Linked DNA regions of Homo sapiens: region 1 is linked to region 2. Evidence: fine-mapped expression QTL. A gene starts in region 2. The other region holds a variant in brackets. All regions are shown on one strand. Distances are from middle to middle. Region 1 overlaps GDPD5 (glycerophosphodiester phosphodiesterase domain containing 5). Region 2 holds the start of GDPD5 (glycerophosphodiester phosphodiesterase domain containing 5).

Region 1 (5,368 bases), 46 kb before region 2:
CTGGGAAGCCCAGCACTGAAGGAGGCTTTCTTTATCCGGCTGTGCACCTGCTGCCAGCTCTGGCAAGCCTGTGGCTCAGGTGACTGAGCCCCGGTGCCAGACCGTGGCCCTGCCAGCTCCCAGGCTCCAGGATGGCCAGGCCCATCTCCTCACCCTCTCCTCCAGCACCTGCCTGTTTGCCTGCCTGCCTGCCTGTCAAGATCTGCCAGGAAGCTGAGAACTTCTGCTCACCTTGGGGTGACCCTTCCCTTCTAGAGGAGCCCAACCTCAACAATGTCAGAGGAGAGTTAACAACTTGTCAACAGGACAAACTCCTTCCATGCCCTCCTGGTCAGTAGATTCAGGAATTACTATAAGCCCATTTTACAGAGGGAGAAACTGAAACCCAGAAAGGCCATTGGCCTGTCCAGAGCGAGTCAGCAGAGACAGAGCTAAGACCCCTCCCCCAGCCCCTCAGGCTTGCTGGGGCTCACTGGGTCCCTCTGACCCTGTTCCAGGGTGGCTCACCGGTGTGGTATCATCATGGGAGCGCTGGTAGCGCTTCCAACGGCAGCCGTAGATGCCCGTGAGGCAGGAGAGGCACAGCTGTGGCTCGTAGTACTGCAGGGGCTGGTGTCTCACCATACTCGTGCCCACGGCCCTGGCGCCTGGCCCTCAGGCGCCCATGGAGGCCCCCAGCTTGTCCTGCAGGAGGAAGCACAGGGCAGTGAGGCAGGGGAAGGGTGAGGAGTCAGGCACCACACAGCAAGTCATTGTAGCCTAGGTCAGGGAGGGTCACCCCTGCTCAAAGCACTGCAGTGGGGCTCCGTCTCACTTGGAGTCACAGGCCCACCCCTGCAGGTCCCCAAGGACCTGTCCTCTGCCTCCCACCCAGGCCCTCATCCTCCCTACTCCTTCCCCTCCAGCCACTCCTGACCTCTTCCATGTTCTTCACTGGCCTAGCATGCTGCTGTTCCCTCTGCCTGGAATGCTCTTCCCTTAGAAACCTGCATGGCTTCCTTCTCTTTCCCCTCCTCTCTTCAGGTCTTAGCTCAAATGTCCTTTTCTTTTCTTTTTGAGACAGAGTCTTGCTCTGTCACCCAGGCTGGAGTGCTGTGGCACAATCTCGGCTCACTGCAACCTCTGCCTCCTGGGTTCAAGCAATTCTCTTGCCTCAGCCTCCCAAGTAGCTGGGATTACAGGTGCCCACCACATCTGGCTAATTTTCGTATTTTTGTAGAGCTGGGGTTTTGCCATGTAGGCCAGGCTGGTCTCGAACTCCTGACATCAGGTTATCCACCTGCCTCAGCCTCCCAAAGTGCTGGGATGACAGGCGTGAGCCATGGCACCTGGCCACATGTCCTTTACTCAATGAGACTGTCCCAGATCACCTTCTGTAAAACTGTAGCCCCTTCCCACATTCCCTAAGCTCCTTCCCACATTCTCAGCTTTGTTTTCTCAATCATGTCCTTAAATATAACTTGCTTATTTTTCCTGTCTGTCTACCCTACTATAATGCAGTTTTCATGAAGGCAAGGATTTTTGTCTGTTGTATTTTCTGCTGTATTCCCAGTAACTTGAACAGTGTCTAGCACATAGCAGACTTTCAAAATAAACATTTTAGAAGAAATTATCATATAAGCTGAGATGTGTTGAGCACTTAAAATACACCAGGCACCGTGTAAATACTTTACATTCATTGTTCCATCTCATCAGCACAACCATCTGAAGTGGCAGGTTCTGTGTCCTAAACCCATTTGACAGTTCAACAAACTGAGGCTCAGAGAACAAGGAGCAATGCCTGGCTGCTGTCCCATAACTGGACTGTAGTCAATCTAGGAACTGCTCTAGTGCCCCAAAGTATTCATTCTCCAGACACAGGGAGCTCCCTCACCGGGTGGGGCCTGTGGGAGGATGGTATAGCAGCAAGAGGTGTCTTGAGGGTTGAAGTGTGGCTGCCAGAAGCTACTGCCCCAGCCCTGCTTGGCACCCTGGAGATATCTGTGGGAGCCTCGGCCTCTGGGGGCCAGTGTTGGTAAAGTGTGACCAGGTGGCAATGGGCTTGGGGCACCTCACACACCCTGAGTATCAGGTGTCATCCAGTCCTCCACACCACTGTGAGTTATTCTTATTCCATTTTGCCGATGACAAACCTGGGGCTCAGAGCAGAGAAACTATTTGCCCAGAGGTGCACAGCTATACTGAGGTGTCAGGACTCCAACGCTGGCCTGTGGGACTCCAGAAACTCAGTCATATGTTCTGTACCAGGCCCTGTCCGAGGCCCTGGAGACAATGTGAGCAGGACACACAAAGGCTCCTAGGGCCCTGAGAGGGCCAAAGAGGGGAACAGCCAGGCATTGTTCCAAGTGCTTTCCATGCAGAAACTATAACAGCAGCCCTAGGAAGGAAGGAAGGATTTGCATTTAAAAAATGGAGATATAATTCACATGCCATAAAATTTACCCTTTTAAAGTATACAATTCAGTATTTAATATACAGTATTCAATTTTTGGTATATTCACAAGTTGTACAACCATCACCACTATCTAATCCCAAAACAGTTTCACCATCCCAACAACCCCCCACCCCCTTCTCATGCACTGTAACTCCCTATTTACCCTGGCTTCACTCCTCTGGCCCTGGCAACTGCTCATCCACTTTCTGTCTCTATGGACTTGCCTATTCTAGAGACCTCGTATAAATGGAATCATACAATATGTGACCTTTTGTGTCTTGCTTCTTTCACGTGGCATAATGTTCTCAAGGCTCATCCATGTTGTAGCATGGATCAGCATTTCATTCCTTTTTATGTCTAACATTCTGTTGTATGGATCTACCACATTTTGTTTATCCATTGATCAGCTGATGGACATATGGGTTGTTATCACTTTTGGGTTGTTATACATAATGCTTCTGTGAATGAGTTTTTTGTGTGAACGTGTGTTTTCATTTCTTTTGGGTACACATTTCTTTTGGGATAGAATTGCTGGTCACAGCACTTTGGGAAGCCAAGGCAGGTGGATCACTTGAGGTCAGGAGTTCGAGACCAGCCTGACTAACATGGTGAAACCCCATCTCTACTAAAAATACAAAAATTAGCTGGGCATGGTGGTGGGCACCTGTAATCCCAGCTACTCGGGAGGCTGAGGCAAGAAAATCGCTTAAACCTGGGAGGCAGAGGTTGTCAAGATCGCACCACTGCACTCCAGCCAGGGTGACAGGGCAAATCTCCATCTCAAAAAAAAAAAAAAAGAATTGCTGTGTCATATGGTAACTT[T/C]TGTTTTTGAGATAAGGTCTTGCTCTGTTGCCCAAGCTGGTGTGCAGTAGTGCAATCATCGCTCATGGCCACCTCAGACTCCAGGGCTCAAGTGATCCTCCTGCGTTGCTGGGACTACGGGTATGTGCTGCCACACCTGGATCATATGGTAACTTTTATGTTTAACCTTTTGAGGAACTGCCAAACTTTTCCAATGTGACTGCACCATGTTACATCCCCAAAGTATCATCATCATCATCCCCATTTTATAGATGAGAACTCTGAAGCACAGAGAGGTTGACCCACTTACCAAAGGACACCCAGCAGAGCCAGGATTCATACCCACGCAGGTTGGCTCCAGGGACCTTGCTCTAACCCATGGGCCTGCCAAATCTGATCTGCCACCTATTTTTGTACAGCCCAAAAGCTAAGAATAGTCTTTATGTTTTTAAATGGTTGTGAAGAGTCAAAACAAAAATATCTTGTGACATATGAAAATTATATGAAAGTCAAATTTCAGTGTCCATAAATAACATTTCATTGGACGCAGCCATGCTCATTCATTTATGTATTGTCTACGGCTGTTTTAACTGTAACTGCAGTGTTGAGTAGTTGCCACAGAGACCATATGGCTTGCAAAGCCTAAAATACTGACTGTCTGGCCCTTTAGAGGGAAAGTTTGCAGACTCCTACAGTGACTGGGCTCTAATGGCCCACGAGCCTTATGGTAAGTGCAGTGTATGATGGAGGGAGGAAAGGGAGCCTGTGGGCACTGACCAAAGTGCAGGGAGGGTCAGAGTATGCTCCCTGGAGTCAGCACTGAGCCAAGGCTTGGTAGATGAGCTCCTAAGATGCCACTCTCCAAGGCCCCAGGGGCTGCACCGTAGGAGCACGCTGGGCTTCAGGCCCACTCACTACTTCTACCACCAGGCCTCACTCAGGGCCTCTGCCTATCCCTCCAACACCACCACCCAATGCTGACTTCACCTCAGTGCGGAGATTACAGCCTGCAGTCTGAGGGGGAAGATGCATTAGGGGCTTGCTGGGAATACTGAATGACCCAGAGTCTCCTGAGTGCTGGGAATTGACTGCTGCAGCCTCTGTTCCGGGGAGCCCTGGGGAGGCCTGTGGACTATGGTGCAGCTGCTGGGGCTTCCCTGAGCCAGGGCCTGGGGGACAGGCTGGGGTGGGGACACAGCTTGGCTCCCATGGGGCTAGAGAGACCATGGGTGGGGGTTGGTGTAGGGTGCTCTCAGCTTTACTATACTCCAGATTTGGGGAGTGCTGCGTGCCCACATAGGCACCCCCACATTCCCAGCCTTCCCGCAGGGGTGGGAGGCCAGGGTCCACAGCCAGGGGAGCCAGATCTCACCCTGTGCACTCCCTAGACAGGGTTCTCTACTGTCATGTCAGCCACTACATCTGCCCCCGCCTCCCCAGGAAGGGAGGAGGCGGGTGCAATGTGGAAAGAAGCCTAGCTTCATGCTGCCTCGCATTGACTTGCTCTGTGGCTGGGGCCACTCAGGCTCTTCCCTGAGCCTTGGTTTCTGAATCTGTAAAAGCAGGTAACAGCTGCTGCCTTGACTTCTATAGGACACACAATTGGGGGCAGGGAGGGGGAAAAGTGCCAGGAGGTACTGCAATGCTGAGGTACAACAGGTGGACATCCTGCAATGCACGTGGGAGCCCGCCCCAGGTTCCCCTGCCTTCACACTCCTTTCCCGGGACCCCCCTGCCCCTGGGACTAATTCCCACATGTCCTCTGCCGCCCCTCCCCTGTCCCCACGACTGCACATTACAACCCACCCAGGAATGGAAATTCCACTTCAAACCTGGAAAAGAGGGAAGTAGAAGTGCATGCGTCATGCCTCGGCCCAGAACTTCGCTGATACTGGCTCTCAGAGTCTCCTCTCCCCCTGGTGCATTTTTGTCCTGTTCATAAGTGTAGGGGATTCTCTGGGAGGCAAACCTCTTCTTTCTCTTCTGTATGCTCTCCTGGCTGCAGCCATCTTGTCCACTCTCACGGCTTTAGTTACCAGGTGCTGCCAAGGCCACCCAGGCTCTGCCTCTGATCGAGATAGCCAGCAGCTCCTGGATGTCTCCAGCGGTGTCACCCAGGCCTTGCAGACCCAG
Region 2 (5,368 bases):
ATATCCTGCGTTCTAATCGAAGACAAGTCTGAGAATTTCCCCAGACTTCCTGGTCAAACTTCAAGCTTCCTTTTCTTCATAGGGATGGAAACGGATATTTGGCCAGGCACTGCATCTTTGTAGCTCATTTAATCCTCGCAACAACCTGCTAAAGGAGGTATTCTAATTTTATAGGCTCAGAGGGATGAAGTGATTTGCTCAGTGCCACTCAGCTAGTGGGAGGCACAGTAGACTCACGCCCACCTGGTCTGTCTGATTTACCACTATCTGGGATTCACCAGTTACTGTGGCTCGAGGCTGCCGCTTAGCCCGTCTGGGTAACTTCCAGGGCACCTGGTATGCAGCTGGCACTCAAACAGTTCTACAAGCAAACTCAAAGGCCCTGGGGAAGTGGTTTTACCTCTCTGAGCTTCAGTTGCCCACACGAGACTGGGCCATTAATAACCTCCCCAGTCTTGGCAAGTACAACATGCCCCTTAGCACTTGACAGCCAGATGTGATGGCCCCACTAACTGAGCAGGTAACACACAGCCTGCCATAACCTATTTTAAAGTGGCACTTGGAACCATGGATGCATCAAGAGGTCACAAGTGACTCTGCAACCCTCCTCTGCTTCACTCTAGGTTCCAGGCTCTCTCCACGTCATGAAAGGAGATCACAGGTGTGAAATTATTTCATCAAAGAGCTTTGTTTAGACATAGAGATTATTGCGAGGATTTGAAGCCCCAGACAGAGGTCTGGGGTAGAGGGAATCCCAAGCCCCTCAGTCACCTTGTCTTTTGGGATCCCCTAACCCTTCCACCCCCAGGGATTGAGCTTCAGACTTCCACAGACCTCTCACCACGCTCCTCCACCTTCCAGGGGCTTTCCAAGGTGGTTTCCCCTTGACTCCAGGGAGTTGGGCATCTCTAGGGTTAACTAGGCCTAGCCAAGGCCACAGGGCCCAGACCAAGGCCATATCCCCTCCCCGTCCCCACACAGAATAAGAGCCCACAGAGTCCATGCCAAGGGCTCTTTCACAACACCCCTCTCCCTACATGCCTTGGGGGCAGCAGAAGCATCCCCTGCCTGGGAATAAAGACACCTGGGACTGTGCCCCAGCCCTGGGAGCCCCCAGCCTTGAGACCTTGAGCAGGTCCCTTCCTTCCTGGGCAGAGGTATCCTGCAGGTTCCCCTGCCCAGAAGAAAATGAGGTTGGACCTTCCATTTGGGCCAAAGGCAATGCGGTTGCAGGCATTCCTCGGGGCCCCAGCAACCAACCACACTAATTCTCACCACAGCCTCATACATGGTCGCCCAGATCTCACATCAGCGATAGGGAAAGCCCCAGCCACCTATCCAGAAGATCCTAACTGGGGAGGAGTGTGCATACCTTGAAGGATGCTCAGGAAGGTTTTCTCAAGTCTACTTGTGGCTCAAGGACTCACTGGCTTTAGGATCGGACAACTGGCACTCCCTTCGGGTGGGCCTCAGTGTCCCCATTAGTAATGTGAGGGAGGTGAGTCACGTGAGCCACATCTCCAGCCACCCCAGAGGGGCTACATCTCCAGCTCTGACAGACCCTTACTTGGGGATCTCTGCAGTGAATTCACCAACAGATAAGCACGTCTCAGGACCTCCAGAGTGTCTTAGAGACCCTGGAGTCTGACACACAAGGGCCAGGAGCTGCTGCTCTCACATCCTGGGCCCACAGGGAGAGAAGCTTTGGAACTGGGAAGCTTCCCACCTCTACCCTCAACTCTGAGTCACCTTTCCTCGCGGGTGACATGGCCAGGGAGCGGGAGGCAAGAAGAAGCCACTTCCTCAGCTTTAGCATCAGCGCTCAAGTGCTCTGCCTCTTCCCCCTCTATCCTCTCCCGCTTCCCCAGTCTCCTCCCCGCAGTGAAAGGAGGTCACTCAGCCCCGTTAAGCCTCAGTTTCTCCATCTGCAAGCGCCGATAATAATACACAACACCTATTTCAGGAGTAGCAGTGAGGCTTAGGCGGGGCGGGGCGGGGCAGGGCGCGAACCCGCACACAATGGGCGCTCAATAAGTACCCGTTTTCTTTCTTTCCCCTCCCCTTCCCGCGCCCCCTCCCAGCCAGTTCCAGCCTCTGCTTGTTTCCCCTGACACTCCCTCCGCTGGCCCCCGCGCTGCCGCGATGGGGTCGGGGACCGCTCCTGCCGCGCATCCGGGGCTCTCACCTGCAGCCTTGGCTCTCGCAGGCCGCCGGGACAGAAGGGGACCCCTGTGTTATCTTCGGGGCAGGCGCTGAACCCCTCACCTGAGGCGGGACGAAGGTGACAGCCTGGGCTCGCGGCACCAGCCCGGCGGTTCGGTCCGACTGTCCTGCCCGCCTAGGACCCCTCACCGAGCGCACGACCCGGCCAGGGCTTCCCGGGCGCTCGCGCTGTTCCAAGCTGTTCCAACTGAAGGTTGGGGTCTCGTGAAGCCAGAGGCTGGGGGGGTCCGGGGTCCCGTGCACCGGAGGCGAGGGCCTGGGGCCACACTGCGCTAGCCCTGGAGCTGGGGTTCCGACCCTCACTGACGGAAAGGCGCGGAGCGACCCTGCAACCACGGACCGGTACGGCGGCGTTAGGAGCGTCCCGTCCCGGCGCAGCGGGTCAGGGCCGGGGCTCCGCGCGTCCCGGCCGCACGCCCCGAACCGCGGGGCTGGGACGGGCAGGGCAGGGCAGGCGCCGGCGGGGAGGCGCGGCGGCCGGAGCCCCGCGGGGAAGTCTTTCCAGGTCCCGACTCGGCTCTCTCTGCAAAACGGGGCGAACCTCGGCGCGGCGGCCGACTCCCGAGCTCCCGGCCGCGGCTCCACTTCCTCCTCTTCCCCTGCTCCCTCGCCGCTCGCTCAGCGCCGCGCCGCTGCCACCTCCGCTGTCATCCCCGCCACCCACCCCCACCGGAGCCGCAGCCCGAGCTCAGCCGAAACAGCGCCGCCCAGCGCCCCAGCGCCAGCCTGCGCGGCCCCGCCCGGACGGGGCGGAGTCAGCAGAGACCCCGCCCCCGGCCGGCTGCGGGCAGGGGCGGGGTGCGCGCCCTCTCCCCTTCCCGGGCCTCGCGCGTGGGGCCGCAGGAGCCAATCCGAGGGTGGGAGCGGAGCGGCGCCCTGCGGAAAGCGGATTCTACCTCGGAGAGGGCGGGGCGGACAATGGAGAGGTGCGGCTGCAAGAGGACAATGGCGGGGCTGGGGGTTCGGAACGGGCCGAATCGGGGAGGGGGTTGGCCTCGGGACCCGGAAGGAGGGAGAGGCGAGAGGGCTGGCTTGCCTGGGACGGGGGCATGGGGACTGCTGTGCGGGGATTGCGGGGGTCACGGGGAAGGAGCAGGGGCCAGTGTAGGAAAAGAAGCCGGGGCGAGGCAAGGTGGAGGATATCCGGGGTCAGGGGTCCCAGGGACGCTGGAGCGAGCCCTCCTGAGTGGTGGGATGCCACCGACACCTTGCTTCTCCCTAGCTTCTAGTGCTCGGCGCTCAGAGGTGAGAGTTGGGCTGGGAAGTGTTCAGATTTCAGGAAACGGTGAAAAATAAGTTTTTGGAAATGAGCGAATTTGTCTTCCACAAGCCTCCCTTCCCTGCGCCCATCCCCGAGGAGGAGCGTCGTGGTCAATTTTAAAAATACGAACTCAAGAGCAGAGTTGTGTGAGGACACACACTTCGAATCGTGATGCATCTGCAGTCCGCTCCCGCCCCTTCCCACCCCGCGCGTTGGGTGCAGGAGCCGTCTTTATTTTCTATTTCATTTTATTTTGAGACAGGGTCCCGCTCTGTGGCCCAGGCTGGAGTGCAGTGGCACTATCACGGCTCACTGCAGCCTCGAACTTCCAGGCTAAAGAGATCCTCCCACCTGTGCCTCCGGAGTAGCTGTGACTACAGGCGTGCACCACCACATCTGGCTAATTTTTAAATTTTTTGTAGAGACAGGGTCTCCCTATGTTTTCCAGGCTGGTCTCGATCTCCTGGGTTCCGGCGATCCTCCTGCCTCGACCTCCCAAAGTGCTGAGATTATAGGTGTGAGCCCTGTGCTTGGCCAAGGAGCCGTCTTCAGTGTGTGCACAGGACCAGGCGCAGAGAAGGTGTTGGAGGGAACTGATGTATGAATGAAAGTTGAATGTGTGCCGCGGGGGAGTGGGGTAGGGACCATGTGAAAGCCGCTAACTGGCCTGGGGAGCTAAGGGATGTTGGTGGCACAGTACAGTCTCTTTGTAAACCTCACACCAACCTTATGTTGTGATAGGTACCCCATTTCACAGATGAGGACTCAGCACAGAGAGGCTAAGTGACGTTCCCGAGACCACACAGCTGGCACAGAGTTCTATCCACCCATCATTATCAAATTCTAGGGTAAAGCTGTGTGGCTTTAACAGGTTACTCTCCCTCTCTGAGCCTCTGTTTCCTCATCTATAAAAGAAGAATAAAGGTGCTACTTGGCAGGGAACCAGGTGAGGGACTGGGCAGGCAGCAGGCTTCAGAGGGTGAAGCATGGGCATTCCCTGCAAAAGAAATGGCATCAGACTATGGCTGAGAGACTGGTTGGAAGAACAAAGAAGAGGGTGAGCTGGAGGCTGAAGTTCAGGCTGCGGACTTGAGGGTGCCCTGTCTTCTTCAGGCCCAGGGGTTGGGAGTAGGCAAGTTGGGCCCAGGAAGTTGGGACTGGTCTCTGGAGCCTGAGGGCTGGGAGAAGGCAGTTTTGCCTTTACTTGTTGAACTTGACGCTAAGAAACCTTGTGGCCCTTCCCTCTGTCCAGAGCCCTCTCTGGCTCCCGGTTGCCAGCATGACCAAGCCCTACATCCCTAGCCTGGCGTTCCAGCCCCTTTGTTATTGCTCTCTGCCTGCTGACTCCACCAGCCTCATCTCCCCATTGCTTACTTCCCTCTCTACTTGCGCCAACTTCTCTCAGCTCCATCAGCAAGCAGGATGCATTCTGTCTCCATGCAGTTGTCTCCTCCATGTGTTGCTTTGCTGTTCCCCTTCTCTCTGGAGTTAATTCTCATTTCTCTGCTGGGCTGAAGGGCAGAACCTCTAGGCCAAATGCTCATCTGTTCTCTTCACTGCTGTATCCCCAGAGCCTAGCACGGAGCCTGGCACATAGTAGGTGCCAAGTAAACAATTGTTGAATAAATGACCCATCTCTCATGAGATTTATCAAGATTTATCTCCACCAAGATTTATCACCACCTCCGAGAAGCCTTCCTGAACTCCCCCAGGCTGCCTGCCTTTGGTCTGGGCTCCCTCAGCTTGAAGGTTCTGTAATGATTGATTTCCATGTCTGGTTTCCCTCCCACCCGCCACCATCCAGCCTGGTACATGGCCTGCCCTTGTGAGATCTCGGCACTGGGAGATGAATGAGGCTCTCAGAGAGTTCTCTGGCTGCCCCTG

Evidence for each region. PIP is the estimated chance that this variant, and not a neighbour inherited with it, causes the effect.
Region 1: its variant is the best candidate, but not a certain one, in a credible set for the expression of GDPD5 in whole blood (TOPMed, PIP 0.69).

What each region holds. Positions count from the first base shown.
Region 1 is chr11:75,477,112-75,482,479 of GRCh38, forward strand. GDPD5 (glycerophosphodiester phosphodiesterase domain containing 5) reads right to left here. Exons shown (of 17, transcript NM_030792.8): 3 at 508-684. The coding sequence starts at 624. Among named protein-coding and RNA genes, the nearest start is that of GDPD5, 46 kb to the right of the region's middle. The variant T/C (reference allele first, on the strand shown) is at 3,257.
Region 2 is chr11:75,523,025-75,528,392 of GRCh38, forward strand. GDPD5 (glycerophosphodiester phosphodiesterase domain containing 5) reads right to left here and starts at 2,917. Exons shown (of 17, transcript NM_030792.8): 1 at 2,186-2,917. RefSeq lists enhancers at 291-340, 2,268-2,768 and silencers at 2,615-3,134, 3,185-3,244.